Linked DNA regions of Homo sapiens: region 2 is linked to region 1. Evidence: fine-mapped expression QTL. Tissue or cell type: whole blood. Region 1 holds a variant in brackets; the other region holds the start of a gene. All regions are shown on one strand. Distances are between the middles of the regions.

What was found. PIP is the estimated chance that this variant, and not a neighbour inherited with it, causes the effect.
Region 2: it holds the start of PTGER4, and the variant in region 1 is fine-mapped to the expression of PTGER4 in whole blood (INTERVAL, PIP above 0.99).

Annotation. Positions count from the first base shown.
Region 1 is chr5:40,343,679-40,351,790 of GRCh38, forward strand. No RefSeq gene overlaps it. Among named protein-coding and RNA genes, the nearest start is that of LINC00604, 110 kb to the left of the region's middle. The variant AAAGG/A (reference allele first, on the strand shown) is at 4,238.
Region 2 is chr5:40,674,992-40,683,103 of GRCh38, forward strand. It overlaps PTGER4 (prostaglandin E receptor 4), which reads left to right and starts at 4,924. Exons shown (of 3, transcript NM_000958.3): 1 at 4,924-5,487; 2 at 5,960-6,869. The coding sequence starts at 6,003. RefSeq lists a silencer at 4,587-4,806 and an enhancer at 5,942-6,469.

The sequences.
Region 1 (8,112 bases):
ATCAAGAATGAAAGGTGGAACATCACCACCAATCTTACAGAAGTAAAAAGAACGTATAAGATAATGTCATAAATAAATGTATGCCAACAAATTAGATAACTAATATGCAATGGAAATATTACTACAAAAACACAAATTACCAAAACTGACTCAATAAGAAACAAAAAATCTGAGCAGACCTATAACAGTTAAAGGGATTGAATCAGTAATCAAAAAACTTCCAACAAAGAAAAGCCCAGGGCCATATGGCTTCTTAGTGAATTCTACTAAATATTTAAAGAGGAATTAACACCAATCCTTCTCAAACTCTTTTTAAAAATGGCATAGATATAAACACTTCTTAATTTATTTTATAGGGCTAGTATTATCCTGATAGCAAAATCAGATTGACATTAAAAAAACTACAGATCAATATTCTTTATCAATACAGATGCAAAAATCCTTAACAAAATACTAGCAAATCAAATCCAGTAGCATATTTAAGAAATTATAAACCACACACCATGACCAAGAAGAAATTTTATCCCAGAAGCATAAGGCTTAGTTTAACATTCTAAAATTAGTTAATGTAATACACTATATTAATGAATGAAGAGAAAAATATCTCGATAGATGAAGAAAAGGCATTTAAAAAAATCCAGTTGTCATGACAAACACCTCAAATAAAGGAAAACTTCAACTTGAAAAAGAAAATTTATGAAAAATCCACAGCTAATATCATACTTAATGTAGAAAAACTAAATAATTTTCTGCCAAGAAGAAGAAAAAGATAAAGATGTCCACTCTCACTACTTCTAATGGAAATTGTGCTAAAATATCTATCCAGAGAAAATAGGGAAAAACAGTGCATATAAAAACCTGCACATAAATTTTCATAGAAGCACTATTCATAATAGCTCAAAATTGGGAGCAACCAATTATCTATCAACTTATAAATGGATAAACAAAAAAACAAAAAATACACAATAAATATATATATCCATACAATTAATATATATATATCCATACAATGAAAAAATATATATATACATCTCCATATAATAAATATATCCATACCTTGAAATATTGTTTGGCAATAAATATAAATGAAGTACTGATATGTGCTACAATATGGGTGAAACTTGAAAATATTCTGTTAAGTGATAAAAGCCAGGCACAAAAAAACACATACCGTATGATCCCATTTGTGTAAAATGTTTTTCATTTCTCTTGTTTTGCTTTTCTGTTTTCCATAGAATAGCTTACTATTGCAGGGGGGGGGTAGGGTGGGAATTAGTATTATGTCCTGAATTTTTATGTGTATTTTTCTATAATGTACAAAGAGTTACATCCTCAAGTGAAAAGTTATGCCCCTTTTCTGTCATCTTTTTTCATTACAGCTAACAGGTTTTGTTTTTCTAATTTCTCAATAATTTTAATATTAGAGATGCCATAATTCTTACAACAGGGAAGGAATCTCAGGAGGTCAGGCTGTCAGAGAAGAACACACAATTTGTTACATAGAACGTAACTATTAATGGGAAAAAGGGTTCTATTAGTAAAATGCAAGGAAGATAACACTTAACAGCTAGAAATTTTCTCCAAACGATCTATGTTTCTATTTTAAATTGTATCATGGATATTCAGTATGTCTTCTAGCTGATTCTATTTGTTAACTGAATTTGCACTAGAAATTTGTTCATATTACATTATGTGATATGATAAATAATTTTCTGTGGCCATGCCAAGTTCATGAACTCTACAATATTCCCTGATATAGCACATATCTACTAGCTCATATGAAATATGTGGGCATTATTTCTTTTCTAAGAAATATGCCAAAATCCCATCCCCTGATTCACCAGTGGTTATTTTAGTGGTGCCCTAAATATTTTTCTTTTCTTAGTGTCACACAGAATCTGATAATATAAAAATTAAATGCTAACCATGGTTAAGTGAATGAAACATATGTAATTTAGAGGCATTTATATAGAAATGATTCACCAAACTGAATATTGACCTTAAAAATATTAATGGATGCCATTAGAAAAAATAGATAGGTACAATTAAATCAAAGTATACTATTGGAAATTTTTTAAATCTAACTTTAAACACTAAATTAGTGTAATTACTACTAACTCTCTTCAATTATTTCACAAATATTTATTGAGTGGGTACGATATGGAAGGTAGTAGGTCAAGAACTGTGTAAGATATGAAGATGAATAAGATAAGATCCTGCCCTCTAGAGTTTATAATATAGAACCAGAGATAGGACATGAACAAAAACTATCACTGTACTTGAAAGTACAATGTGCCAAACAGCAAAACGTAAGTACAGATAAGCTGCTATAGATATTTCTCATCTCAGGGACTCATTCTACTGCCTTAAGGTAACTGGTAGAAAGGCTGTCTTTTTCTTGCCTGCATTTATTACTAATGTTATACTCCTTTATTCAAATCATAATCTAAGAAATTAATTTAAGAAAGTAATCAACAGAAGCTGGGCATTATATCTATACCAGGAAAAAGTAGAAAAAAACACCTGTACACTAAATAAATGGGAAATAAATTATTACACAATGATTTGATGAAGTAGGATGAAATCATTATATAATGTTCAACTAAGTATAGACATATGCAGCATAATTTTTAAATGTAAACAGGAAATTAGTTTTATTAGGATAGTGAGACTATGGGTATTATTTGGGAGGCAATCTTTAATGTTGTGATATTTTTATGATGGAAAAAATAAAAGAACATACATTGGCATTTATTTACTGAGGTATCACATCAAAGTATTCTGTTTTCCACATTATGCAGAAAAATTAAAAGATTAATTACCGAGGAAGCATTACTTCTATACTCAACTGCACATCTGTATTGATAGTGTGGTTGACCCAGTAGCACCTAGATTATGATTAAGACAGACGCACATAGCAACCAGGCATTATGAGGTTATGACATGATATTCCATGGAGTTCTCCAAACAGCTCCAAGAGCATTTACACTTTACTGGCAAACCATGTCCTTAAGATGGATAGTCATGAAGCTAACCAACCCCAGATTATTGCTGGTTTTTTTTTTACAAAAATTAAAACATCTGCTTTCTTTTTATCTATGTCCCTCCCTCTACTTTCATTGAAAAAAAAGAAAAACAATATGTTTATATCTTGCCTAAACAGTTTAGTAGATGGATAAGTGTTGATCATTATACTAATAACTAGAAATGTTAATACAGAAAATTATTAAAATTTCATATTATATCCCTTTTCACTAATTGTACTCCCAAACAGGCTTATGTAATAAAAGTTGCCTTCAAGCCAAGTCCTAATGTCTACAGTCACATGGAATGGTTATCCACATTTCTTCCTCTTAAAGTTTTATTTTCTGATTTGGAAAGTATTACTTATTGAGCCAACTTTTCATTAAATACTAAATTTTTTCTTAGCCAGCTCCCAGAGGGGAGGTAGTTTTATTGCAATATATGAACACATGGAATTTGCAGATATTTGTGGGCAAGCCCCTGCAACTATCTCATAGTTCACTGTACCAAATTTTTTATATCACGAGCCAAGTTTATTCTTCCTCATCCAGGATAGAGTTCCCTTCTAGAGGCTGACACACACAAAAAAGGAGGAGATATTGTGTATCACACCTAAATCTAAAAACCCAAACCATGTTAAAATAGATTTTCACAACAAGAAGTAGACAGCAGTTTACTATGAGTAGAGTTTTTAAAACTAGTGCAGTGCCTCCAATTTTCTAAATTCAATCATAGAAGTATCAGGGAAAATTGACGTTTCATCTTTGTACCTCACATTCGTGTTTAATTATTTACTAATTCATTCATTCATTCAATCATTATTTGTTGAGTGCTGACTATGGGTTAAAACACTCTGTTAGGCACTAGGAACATATTGCTAAACCGAAAGAAGATCGTTTCTATCTTCACAGAGGTGAATCCAGACATTGAAGAACCAATTACAGAATTGCTTATTTAAATACACGCTATGAAGAAGAACTACAAATTTTTGATAGTATGTAACTGAGGTGGTTTTGCAAGATTCCTCTGGGGGAAAAAATAGCACATATTCTGAAATATGAAGGACAAACAAACCTAGGCAAGGTCAAGCTGCGAATAAGGAGACAGGAAAAAAGCAACAAAGGACATTTCAGATGAGAAAAAAGCATGTGCATAGGCTCTGAGGCAGAAAGAAAAAAAAGGAAAGAAAGCAAAGAAAGAAAGAAAGGAAAGG[AAAGG/A]AAGGAAGGAAGGAAGGAAAGAAAAGGAAGGAAGGAGCAAACTAGAGACAAGGAGGGCGGGGGTTGAAGATGGCTGATTAGAAGCATTTTAAGCCTGCTGCTAAACTTAGAAGAACTAGAGTAGTGTAGTGCATAGATAGTTACACTTTGAGTTTATTTTCCAAGAGAGAACACTGAATTCAACAGGGAAGTGACAGGAGGCACCAAAAGTGGGAGTCGGTGGGGCGGATGGGAGAAGAGGCAACCTCCCTGGCCGGGATTGGCTGCAAGCCTGGAGTGACTTCTCAACACAGGGAAGGGATGAGTAAAAGACTTCCAGCAGCCCACATCCCCACCATGCAATCACGCAATTCTGGCCTACGGAGATGCCCTCATTTCTCTCAACCCCTGAAATAACGTAGGAAGCTGCTGGGAGACTGTGGGATGGAACTCCTCCAGGGAGGGAGCTCATACGGTATCTCACACCCTTTCTAAGACCTATGCAGCTACAGCAAGTTGTCATTTTCAAAACTAGCTCTGGTACTGCACACTGTTCTGGGACCCAGGGGCACTGGGAATGAGGCATTACTGAAACCCAAGCTGTCATTGCTGGGACAGCAGAGCAAGCCTGGAGCACTGCCACCGCCAGGGCTAGAAAGCAAGCAAGGAGTAGGCAGCAGTTTCCAGTCATGGGAAGCAAGTGCTTAGCTGCTGAGATCTAAGATGGGGATGCGAGCATAGTGTGAATTGCCACTGGGACTTGGTCATAAACTGGGCGTAGTCTCCTGTAGCCAGAGCAAGAGACAAGCCCTGAAGGGACTGGGGTGTGAATGAGATCCACGTCGCCCACATATCAGCTGAGACCACTGAGGGAGGCCCCAATCTCTGCCATGGCAGTGCCTCAGCTTTTCTGCTATTGCCCTTTATTCCAAGCACTGCTCCTGGGACCTGAAGATCACCCCACCCTGGCCCTCCACATCTGGTGCCCACTTTCACCATGGTGGGGGGTTGGGGGCACACCTAAGCACAAGCTCATGCAGCCCAGCTTTGGCCCCCTCAGGACAGTGCACATAGCCTGAGGTTCTGGGGATCACTAATCCACCATCTTGGGTACCTGAGCACTCCTCCTGGGGGCCTAAGGTCAGACCTAACCTCCCAGCTGCTACCACCTCAGCTGCCACCCACCTGCAAGTTCCACTTGTGGGCCTGTAGACTCGCTCACCCAACCCCTCACAGCCATAGCCAACAGCAACACATACCACTTGAGACCCAGAGAATTTTCCCACCATTGCCACTATTATCACCCAATCCACACCAGCTGTCAGGGACGTGAGTACTTACCAGCCTGCCCAGTCCACTGCGTCATTATCAGCATTTGAGCATGCCACCTAGAGACCCAAGAATAGACCCACCAGTAACTGCCAACACAGGTGCCACTGGGGCACAAAGGTAGGCACACTCAGCCTATGGCTGCCACTACTGGGGCCTGAGGACCAGCCCACCTGGTATCCTAGTCTCCAGAACAACTTTACCATAGCCTCCGTAATAGCCACACCCTAACCCACCAAGTGAATCAAAGACACCACTAATATCAAAGAAATCATACAGAGAGACTACACTACCGAACATGTCCAGAATCAGAGCCAGAGTAACTTATCCAACCAACACCATAGATACATCTTTGGAAAAAGATCCTCCCTCAATGAAAGTATATTCAAAAATAGTAAGAACCGACTGTTAACAACAAATGCGTAAATGTCAATGTATGTAAGAACAAATGAAGAATGAAAAAGCAAGGAAATATAACACTTGCAAAGGAACACAATAATTCTCCAGGAATAGATCTTAATCAAAATGAAATTTTCAAAACCCCAGATAAAGAATTAAAAACATTGATTTTAAAGAAACTCAGTGAGATCCAAGGGAATTCTGAAAAACAGTACAAAAAATCAGAAATATAAATCAGAAATATAGTTCAGGTTATGAGTGAGAATTATACTGAAAAGATGGATATTTTTAAAAGAATCAAATAGAAATTCCTGAACTGAAGAATTTATTGAAGGAAATCCAAAATACATTTGAAAGCTTCAACAATAGACTAGGTTACACAGAAGACAGAGCCTCATAACTTGAAGACATCTTTTAAAATAATCCAAACTGAAAAAAGAAGAAAAAAGGAAAAACAAGAATAAGCAAAGCCATTGTGACATTTGAGACAACATAAAGTGACTGAATATACAAATTATTGCCTCCCTGGGAATGAAGAAACAAGGAAAGGATCAGAAAACATATTTAACAAAATAATGGATGAAAACATCCCAAGTCTAGCAAGAGGTTTAGACATTTATATTCAGGAGGCTCAATCCCCAGATAGATAAATACAAAAAATCTTCCCCAGGGCACATTAAAATCAGAATGTCTAAAGTCAAAGTTAAAGAGAAAATCCTAAAAACACCAAGAGAAAGCTATTTAATAACGTACAGAGAAAACCCTGGCAGACAGGGGTTTTAAATCCCATGGATTTAAACAGGGCTTTAGACCAAATGGACCTAACAGACATTTACAGAGCATTCTATCCAACAGCTTCAAAATATACATTCTTTTCGTCAACACTTTCTCCAGGATGGACCATATGTTAGGCCACAAAACAAGACATAATTACTTTTAAAAGTCAAAATCATGAAGTATCCTCTCACACTACAATGTAATAAAACCAGAAATCAATACAAAGGGAAGCTTGAAACTATACAAATACAGGAAATTAAACAACATGTTTCTGAATGACCACTGGGTCAACAAAAATATTTCAAGATGGAAATCAAAAAATTTCTTGAAACAAATAAAAATGGAAACACAGTATACCAAAACCTGTGGGACACAGCAAAAGCAGTGCTAAAAGGGAAGTTTACAGCAATAAACACCAATTTCAAAAAAAGTAGAAAGATGAGAAACTAACGATCTAAGAGTGCATTTCAAGTGACTAAAAAGCAAGAACAAACCAAATGCAAAATTAGCAGAAGAAAAGAAATAATAAAGACCAGAACTGAGCTAAATTAAATAGAAATTAAAAATAAAAATACGAAGAATCAATGAAATTAACAGTTGGTTCTTTGAAAAGAAACAAAATTAATAAACCAGTAGTTAGATTAATCAAGAAAAGAAGAGAGAAGACCCAAACAAACAAAATCAGAAATGAAAAAAAAGAGACATTACAACTGATACCACAGAAATACGAAAGATCATCAAAGACTACTATGAACAACTACACACTGACAGACTGGAAAACCTAGAGGAAATAAATTCCTGGAAACATACAACCTACTAAGATGAATCAAGAAGAAAGAGAAAACCAGAGCATACCAATAACGAAAAGTGAAATTGAATCAGTAATAAAAAATGTCTCCCAGCAAAGAAAAGTCCAGGACCGATGGATTCATAACCAAATTTTACCAAATGTACAAAGAAGAACTAATGTCAATCCTCCTGAAACTATTCCAAAACAGCAAAGAGATAATTCCTCCCAACTCAATTTACTTGCCCAGTATTACCGTGATACTAAAACCAAACTAGGACATGCCAAAACAAAAACATGCAGGTCAATATCCCTGAAGAACACAAACACAAAAATCCTCAACAAAATACTAGCAAACTGAATCCAACAGCACATAAATAAGATAATACACTATAATAAGGTAGAATTTTCAATAAATGTAATACATCACATCAACAAAATGAAGGACAAAACCATATGATCATCTCAATAGACTCATAAAAAATTTTAATAAAAATCATTATAATAAAAGCCATATATGATAAGCCCACAGCTTACATCCTACTGAATGGGGAAAAGTTGAAAGCATTTTCTCTAAGACTGGAACAAGACAAGGATGCC
Region 2 (8,112 bases), 330 kb after region 1:
CTCATGGCAGGCTAGGTCTTGCCTCCAAATAATATTATGCAATGGAGGATTCTTACTAATAGAAAAGGAGTTCAGCTGCTGGGCAGCCTTTCAAAACTGACAACACCTGGGCTGGGTGTGGTGGCTAACCCCTGTAATCCCATCGCTTTGTGAGGTGGAGGCTTGTGGATCGCCTGAGCCCAGGAGTTCGAGACCAGCCTGAGCAACATGGGGTAACTCCATCTCCACAAAAAAATACAAAAATTAGCCAGGCATAGTGGCACCTGCCTGTAGTCCCGGCTTACTTGGGAAGCTGAGGTTCACTGGACCCCAGGAGGTGGAGGTTGCAGTGAGCCAAGATCGCCCCACTGCACTCCAGTCTGGGGGACAGATTGGGACCCTGCCACAAAAAAAAAGAAAAAAAAAAACACTCCCAGCATTCGTTAACCAAACTTTGATTTGCTCATCTGTGAAATGGGCATCTGACTGCCTAGTACCTTCCTCATAGGTTTGCTGTGAGAATTTGACAGCGTATGCATGTTGCAGTTAGCATGATGTCTCACATAGGCTGAGCATTGGATAAATTTCAGCTATTCTTACTAATTCTTGTGACTCTCAGCAAGCCACATAGAATCTCTGTGCCCACATTCTCACTCACTGAAGGAAGATTACATCAACCATACTAAATTAGTCAGCATAGGCTAACTGCTGAAACAAGGGACCCCTCAAATCTCAGTGCATTATTTCTCATTCACTTCATTGTCCAGTGAGGGTTGCTGGGATTGGAATGAGGTCCATACAGGCACTCAGAGGCCAAGTCACCTTCTATCTAGTGGCTCTGCCATATACCCGGGACCTGTATTATGTTGGCAGAGGACGAACAATAGCACAAAGGACTGGGTTTTATAGGGACCCAGCCTGGAAGTGGCATATATCAATTCTACCTCTATTCCATTGGCCAGAATTCAGTCACATGAGCTGCACCTAACCACAAGAAGTCAGTTTGGGAAATAATACGCAGCTATGTGTTCCAGAGGAAATGGAAACAAGATTTGGTGCAACACAGCAGACTCTGTCACACCTACCTAACCTCCTCAGAGGGTTGCTAATAAAAGCGCATGTGAACGCCAAGTGTGAAACTGCTATGGAAAGTGATAAACTAACATGAGCTACAGGTGATGCTGCTGCTATTGATTAAGCCAGGGAGTTTCTGTGCATCCTCCACATTGCTAAAACATACAGCAATTTGGGTATGAGAAGAAACCGAAATATAATCAGAAGGTCCTTCCTCCTGTAGGGGAGACTCTTTAACTAGTAAGGCTTTATTTCTCCACTTGTATCTTCAAAAATGGGCCACTCTGGGAGCGGTGACTCACGCCTGTAATCCCAGCACTTTGGGAAGCCGAAGGGGGTGGATCACAAGGTCAGGAGTTCGAGACCAGCCTGGCCAATATGGTGAAACCCCATCTCTACTAAAAATACAAAATTAGCCAGGCAAGGTGGCACATGCCTGTAATCTCAGCTACTAGGGAGGCTGAGACAGGAGAATTGCTTGAATCCAGGAGGCGGAGGTTGCAGTGAGCCAAGTTGCACCACTGCACTCCAGCCTGGGCGACAGAGCGAGAATCTGTCTCAAAAAAAAAAAAAAAAAAGGCCACTGCAGGTAAATAATCTCCTTTCTTTGCCCATTGGTCCAATCCACATGGGCGTGTGGTGAAACTGGAGGGAAAAAAAGGGAGCGAGCAGAATAAAAGAGCAGAAAGCTATTACTTTGAGGAGTGTAATTGTCAGAGCAGGCTGTCAGAGCAGCCTGAAGCAATCACTCAGTAGGGGCCAGCCTCCACAGCAGTAATTTATCACCACATGAAGATGTTGGGGAGTTAATCACAGCACTGACATGTGTCAGCTCCAGGCATTGGGCTCAGCATAAACTTCATGCTTAGAAAATGAAAATAATTAAGAGGGCACACATTTGAAATGTACCACTAAAAAGGGAAGGCAGTCATCTTAGGGTCAGGTGAATGCCATGTTTGTAATCCACTAAACCAACTGGAAGAGCCTGTGGAGGGCAAATGTGTCCAAGGGTACTTTGCTATTTGTACCTGATAGATGCCTTTCACACTGTTTTGAGTCTCTGCATGGCCTGTCATGAAAGAGAAAAGCAAACACAATTTGCACAGGCTTTGCTACATGAATATTAGTGCTTCAGGAATGCTCTAAGATCCTGCCAGCTGCGGCTCAGGAAGGGGTCCAGGCCAGATCTGACTCATCCTGCTGCCTTCCTCCTGGAAATGATCCCCTTTCTCACCCCACTCCTGCTGGCTGAGCCCAGGTCCTGTCTGTCCCATATTTCCTTTGATCCAAGGAAAACTAAAAGTGGTTACTAGCTCCCAAGCGGCCTTTGTTTATAAATGGGTTCCCACCTTAATATGTTTACTCAAAAAACTCGTCAAATAATTAGCTATAACAGAGCAATCAAACTGATCAAACAGTTCTTGGAGTAGTTCAAACCTTCAGAGAGTTATTTAATGACAGTTTTAAATAACTGAACTGGGGTCTTCCAGCATAGAGAAGTAGGGATTGTGGCAGAAACTGCGAGGGAGAATTTTTAAAGTGCTTAGAATAAAAATCTTTTCATTGAAAAAAAATGACAAGAATTGCCCACATAATTATGGCAATTTTTCCTTTCCTTTTGCAATGCAAATTCCTGGCAGAGTGTAAGAGAAACTGAGCTCCACTGTCCCAGTTTTTCAAACTAAGAAAATAAAATAATTTGCTACCTAAACTTTCAACTTCTACTTTTGAAAGCTAAATTTAAGTTTTAAGAATCGTACAACAAAAGAGACTACAGATAAACCTCATTACAATTTTTTAGTATTGAGCATTAGGTTATTTATTTTCCTTCTTCCTAAAGCTACTGTAGAAAGAAAATTCAAAGGACTAGTAAGAAAAATAGCTCAATTGATAACAAGTCTGGTTTGTCAATGACATGCTAATACCTGTAACAGTTACTAATTATCTCAGCAGTGTGTCTCAGTTTTTATATTTAATATATTCTTCATCATTCTTAAATTAATAAATAGCAACCAATTGTTTTCTCTTTTACAAGCTTCATATGGAAAGAAAATTGAAAAAAAAAATTTGTATTAGCAGAAAGTGAATATAAGGGACTTCCCAACCTCCCCTCCATATATTTACTGACAAGCAACTGACATGAGTGATAGCAAAGCAATGTGGTTAGTGAGGAATGGCGCAGAGTGTGCAGTTTCCTTTTTTCTAATGTTGATTTGTTTTCTGTGCTGACACAATCCTAGAGGTTACTGTTCAAAGGAAGCATCGACAACAGAAGTGATTAGAGTACTGATTAAAAGAAGATTTTTAAGAAAATGACCAATCACCATCAATCTTAATATTGGCTAACAAATGTGTATTTTTCTTTCTCATATTATTAAGTAAATAGTATAAACAGAATAATTCTTTATTAGTATATCCATATAGTGCCTTTTGCAAGTAAATATGATTCTGGATATTTTATGACCTGTAATTACTTGAAATCGGAAAGCCCTTTTAGTTTCTCTTATTACCCATGTGTTGCTGAGACTAACTGAAGAACCAGTTAGGAGGTTTGTTCGTTCACGAAATAACATTTAAGAAATGGGTACCTGCTTATCACATAAAAGAATCCAGTTATTTACTTACCCTGTGAGGAGACATAATATGTTAGAATGCTTGTACACTGCAGATGGGAAGAGGTTTTTCCAGGAATTTAAATTGTGCAATAAGGCCACACAATCTTACTTAAAAAAAATGGTGAAGGGGTTTTAATTACACCATGAAGTTTTACAATTTTTTAGGTTTTTAGTTCTGGTTTTAGAAAACAGAGTAGAAGGATTACAGAGAAAAACTTCACCATTAGACAAGAAGTCAAAATGATTCTAAGGGCCGCGCAAACAGGCTTTTCCAAGAATTAATCATGAGGTGGTGCTTGGAGAATTCCTTTACTCCAGTGACTTTGAAACCCCCTTCTCACTCTCCACTAGTCTTTCAAAGGATTCATGGTGAATTGGGTCTAACGAGTATAACACGGCCGGCCGAAGGCATGAAGCTCACGCTACCCTTTCAGGGCGGAGAAGTTCCCAGGAGGAAGAATGGAGAAAAAGATCGCAGTTAGGCAGTCCTCCCAACCTCACCAAGGCTCCACCTCTCTCCAAAGCCGCAAGGCTCTGCCACCTGCGCCGGGAGAGGCTGCAATCACTGTCTCCTCCTCTTTCTTTCTCTTTTTTTTTTTTCTTTTTTGCCTGGGGTGCCCGACCAAGCGCAGCCCGCAGTCTGGGCACTGCCAACTGACTCCAACTCCTTTTATGGTGAGAGGATGGATTCTTCGTTATTTCCCCGCCCAATCTGGTACCCACCCACCCACCCACCTACCACGTCCGCTGGGCGCACCCAAGTCTAACCCCGGGGCGCACGCGCTAGCGCAGACACCGTATTTCTTCTCCTTTCTCGGCCAACCCTAGGTAGAATCCTAAAACAACTGCCCTCTCTTCCACGATCTAGATGTTGCGGCCCGCGGACAGGAGGTTCAAGAAATAGTACACTCCGAGCGGCAGGCAGCGAGGCGGAAACGGTCGCCGGTTTCAGTGGTGGCCCCACTGGAAGCCGAGTTCAGGAGCGGCTAAGCGGTCGCCGGGGAAAGCACCGGGGCTTCCCAGGGTCCCCTCCGAGTTCCCACTCCGCACCTCCGAGGGCGTGAAAACCACGGGAGCCGCCCCACCCCGCGCGCCCAGCCCCGCCCCAGCCCAGACACCGCCCCCCGCCAGTCTTCCCTGCGGCGCCCAGGGAGGACGCGCTCCGCCCCCTTCCAATCCGGCCAATGGGCGCCCGGGCAGCGCGCGGTTTGCCTCCGCCTCCGCCAGGGAAACTTGGAGGAGGAGAAAAGTTTGTACAGAGGGTGGAAAGGCGAGAGCGGAGCTCCAAGCCCGGCAGCCCGAGAGGAAGATGAACAGCCCCAGGCCAGAGCCTCTGGCAGAGTGGACCCCGAGCCGCCCCCAGGTAGCCAGGAGCGGCCTCAGCGGCAGCCGCAAACTCCAGTAGCCGCCCGTGCTGCCCGTGGCTGGGGCGGAGGGCAGCCAGAGCTGGGGACCAAGGCTCCGCGCCACCTGCGCGCACAGCCTCACACCTGAACGCTGTCCTCCCGCAGACGAGACCGGCGGGCACTGCAAAGCTGGGACTCGTCTTTGAAGGAAAAAAAATAGCGAGTAAGAAATCCAGCACCATTCTTCACTGACCCATCCCGCTGCACCTCTTGTTTCCCAAGTTTTTGAAAGCTGGCAACTCTGACCTCGGTGTCCAAAAATCGACAGCCACTGAGACCGGCTTTGAGAAGCCGAAGATTTGGCAGTTTCCAGACTGAGCAGGACAAGGTGAAAGCAGGTTGGAGGCGGGTCCAGGACATCTGAGGGCTGACCCTGGGGGCTCGTGAGGCTGCCACCGCTGCTGCCGCTACAGGTGAGATGGCGTTGGGCTGACGTTGGGGTCAACGGGTAGAGAACGCAGGGATGCGGCCCTCGCCGAAGAGAGCCAAGAAGGGAAGAGCGCGCTCTCCAAATTGCTTTTGTAACTTGTTTTCAGTGAGCATTTTATTGATTCAGAATCTATCGAGAATAGCACTAGCGAGCTACTTTTCCCTTGAGATGGGTCTTATTCATCTTGGCAATGGAGTGAGTTGGATTGTGGGGAGGAAGAGGAATGGGAAAATCAGTTTATAAATATTAATGTCAGCAAGAGTGTGCTGTTGGCAGGACGTATCGCGAGCCTGGAGATTTTGGTGGCCGCAGTTGGTAAGTGGCTACAATCCAGAAAGTAGGATCGAGTTGCTCCCCTTGTCTTATCAGTGTATCGTTTCTCGGGCGCGGGTCTAACACCTTACAAGTGGTAATTTCCGCTCACGGCAGCTTTGTCTCTCTTCTACCATCCCCAGACCCAGCCTTGCACTCCAAGGCTGCGCACCGCCAGCCACTATCATGTCCACTCCCGGGGTCAATTCGTCCGCCTCCTTGAGCCCCGACCGGCTGAACAGCCCAGTGACCATCCCGGCGGTGATGTTCATCTTCGGGGTGGTGGGCAACCTGGTGGCCATCGTGGTGCTGTGCAAGTCGCGCAAGGAGCAGAAGGAGACGACCTTCTACACGCTGGTATGTGGGCTGGCTGTCACCGACCTGTTGGGCACTTTGTTGGTGAGCCCGGTGACCATCGCCACGTACATGAAGGGCCAATGGCCCGGGGGCCAGCCGCTGTGCGAGTACAGCACCTTCATTCTGCTCTTCTTCAGCCTGTCCGGCCTCAGCATCATCTGCGCCATGAGTGTCGAGCGCTACCTGGCCATCAACCATGCCTATTTCTACAGCCACTACGTGGACAAGCGATTGGCGGGCCTCACGCTCTTTGCAGTCTATGCGTCCAACGTGCTCTTTTGCGCGCTGCCCAACATGGGTCTCGGTAGCTCGCGGCTGCAGTACCCAGACACCTGGTGCTTCATCGACTGGACCACCAACGTGACGGCGCACGCCGCCTACTCCTACATGTACGCGGGCTTCAGCTCCTTCCTCATTCTCGCCACCGTCCTCTGCAACGTGCTTGTGTGCGGCGCGCTGCTCCGCATGCACCGCCAGTTCATGCGCCGCACCTCGCTGGGCACCGAGCAGCACCACGCGGCCGCGGCCGCCTCGGTTGCCTCCCGGGGCCACCCCGCTGCCTCCCCAGCCTTGCCGCGCCTCAGCGACTTTCGGCGCCGCCGGAGCTTCCGCCGCATCGCGGGCGCCGAGATCCAGATGGTCATCTTACTCATTGCCACCTCCCTGGTGGTGCTCATCTGCTCCATCCCGCTCGTGGTGAGTGACCGGGGCTGGGGCCCTACTCGGCCTTTTTCTCGCATCCACCTCCCGCGTCCATTCCCCGCTCCCTGCTTTCCCTCTGAGTCCTTGGCAGTGAACGTGTCGCCTTTAGGTCGGGGCTGGGATTCCCACACTGTTTCTCAGAGCAGGCCCAACCCTCTTTGAAGTCCCAACCCTAACGAGATTTAGCAGGTGCTTTGCCCCTACATCCCCCAGTTTATGTTCCCGGAAGCCTGGGTTTCTTTCTCCACCGAGACAGCCCTTACCCCTTGCTGCCTGACACTGGCCGAGTCTTCCAAGAAAACCCCCCGCCCCCTCTGTTAGACGTGGAGGGGAGCCTGCTGTAGTGTGACTTAGCCCATTCCTCCGTACTGTGAACTGTGAACTGCAAAACCTGAAATGTCAGGGATGGTGATCTGTTCGTTGTAAACCATTTTTAAGGAAAGTGGGGTTTTTGGTGTTTTGATGTATGCAAGGTTTCTTGAATTTCTTCCCCCGTGGATTGCGTAGAATTTTAAAGCTAGAAGAGATATCAAGAGGTGTTTTAGTCTAACTCCCTCACTTCACTGAGGGAGTGAATGATACGCTTAAAATAATCCAGCCGAACCTACACAGTCAAGCTAGGCTCCCTGCTCTTTACCATGGTGTGCCCTGGGAGGGCAGCTTAAAGCACACAAATTCTAATTCATATACAGGGCAGGGTCCAGACTCAGTTTCTTTCATTCTGTCTAGACCAGGAAAGCAAAGTTTCTCAGGGTGACTAATTATGGACAGGCTGATATACATAGGGTATGGGATTTGAATTCTCGACAACTGTGCGAGGTACAGTACCATTTTAGAGAAACCGAGGTTTAGAGATGGCTGTCTTTGTTTCTTCAAGCCAAAGCTCTACAGCTTGTAATGGACCTTAGGCCGTCTGAGGCCAGACCCAGCTCATGTGTTATTACATCACGTCTCCCTCGTAGAACATTTCTCATTTTGGCGTTTGTAAAGCGTGGGTTGGAGTTTTGGTACACTTCATTTTTAGTTCATCTTTTAAGAATTGCCTTTGGATTAACTTTTAAAATATGATAAACAGAAAGGCTCAAACCCTACCTAGTTTTCTACTTTGCCTGTGGCTAAAATGGAATGCACCAGAAGCAGATGGGCAGAATAATGCAATACTTTATCTAGAGTTTCTCTTGAAAGCAACTAGTTATGAGTTCTTCCATCTTCCAAAACACTGCATTCCTGGAAATTC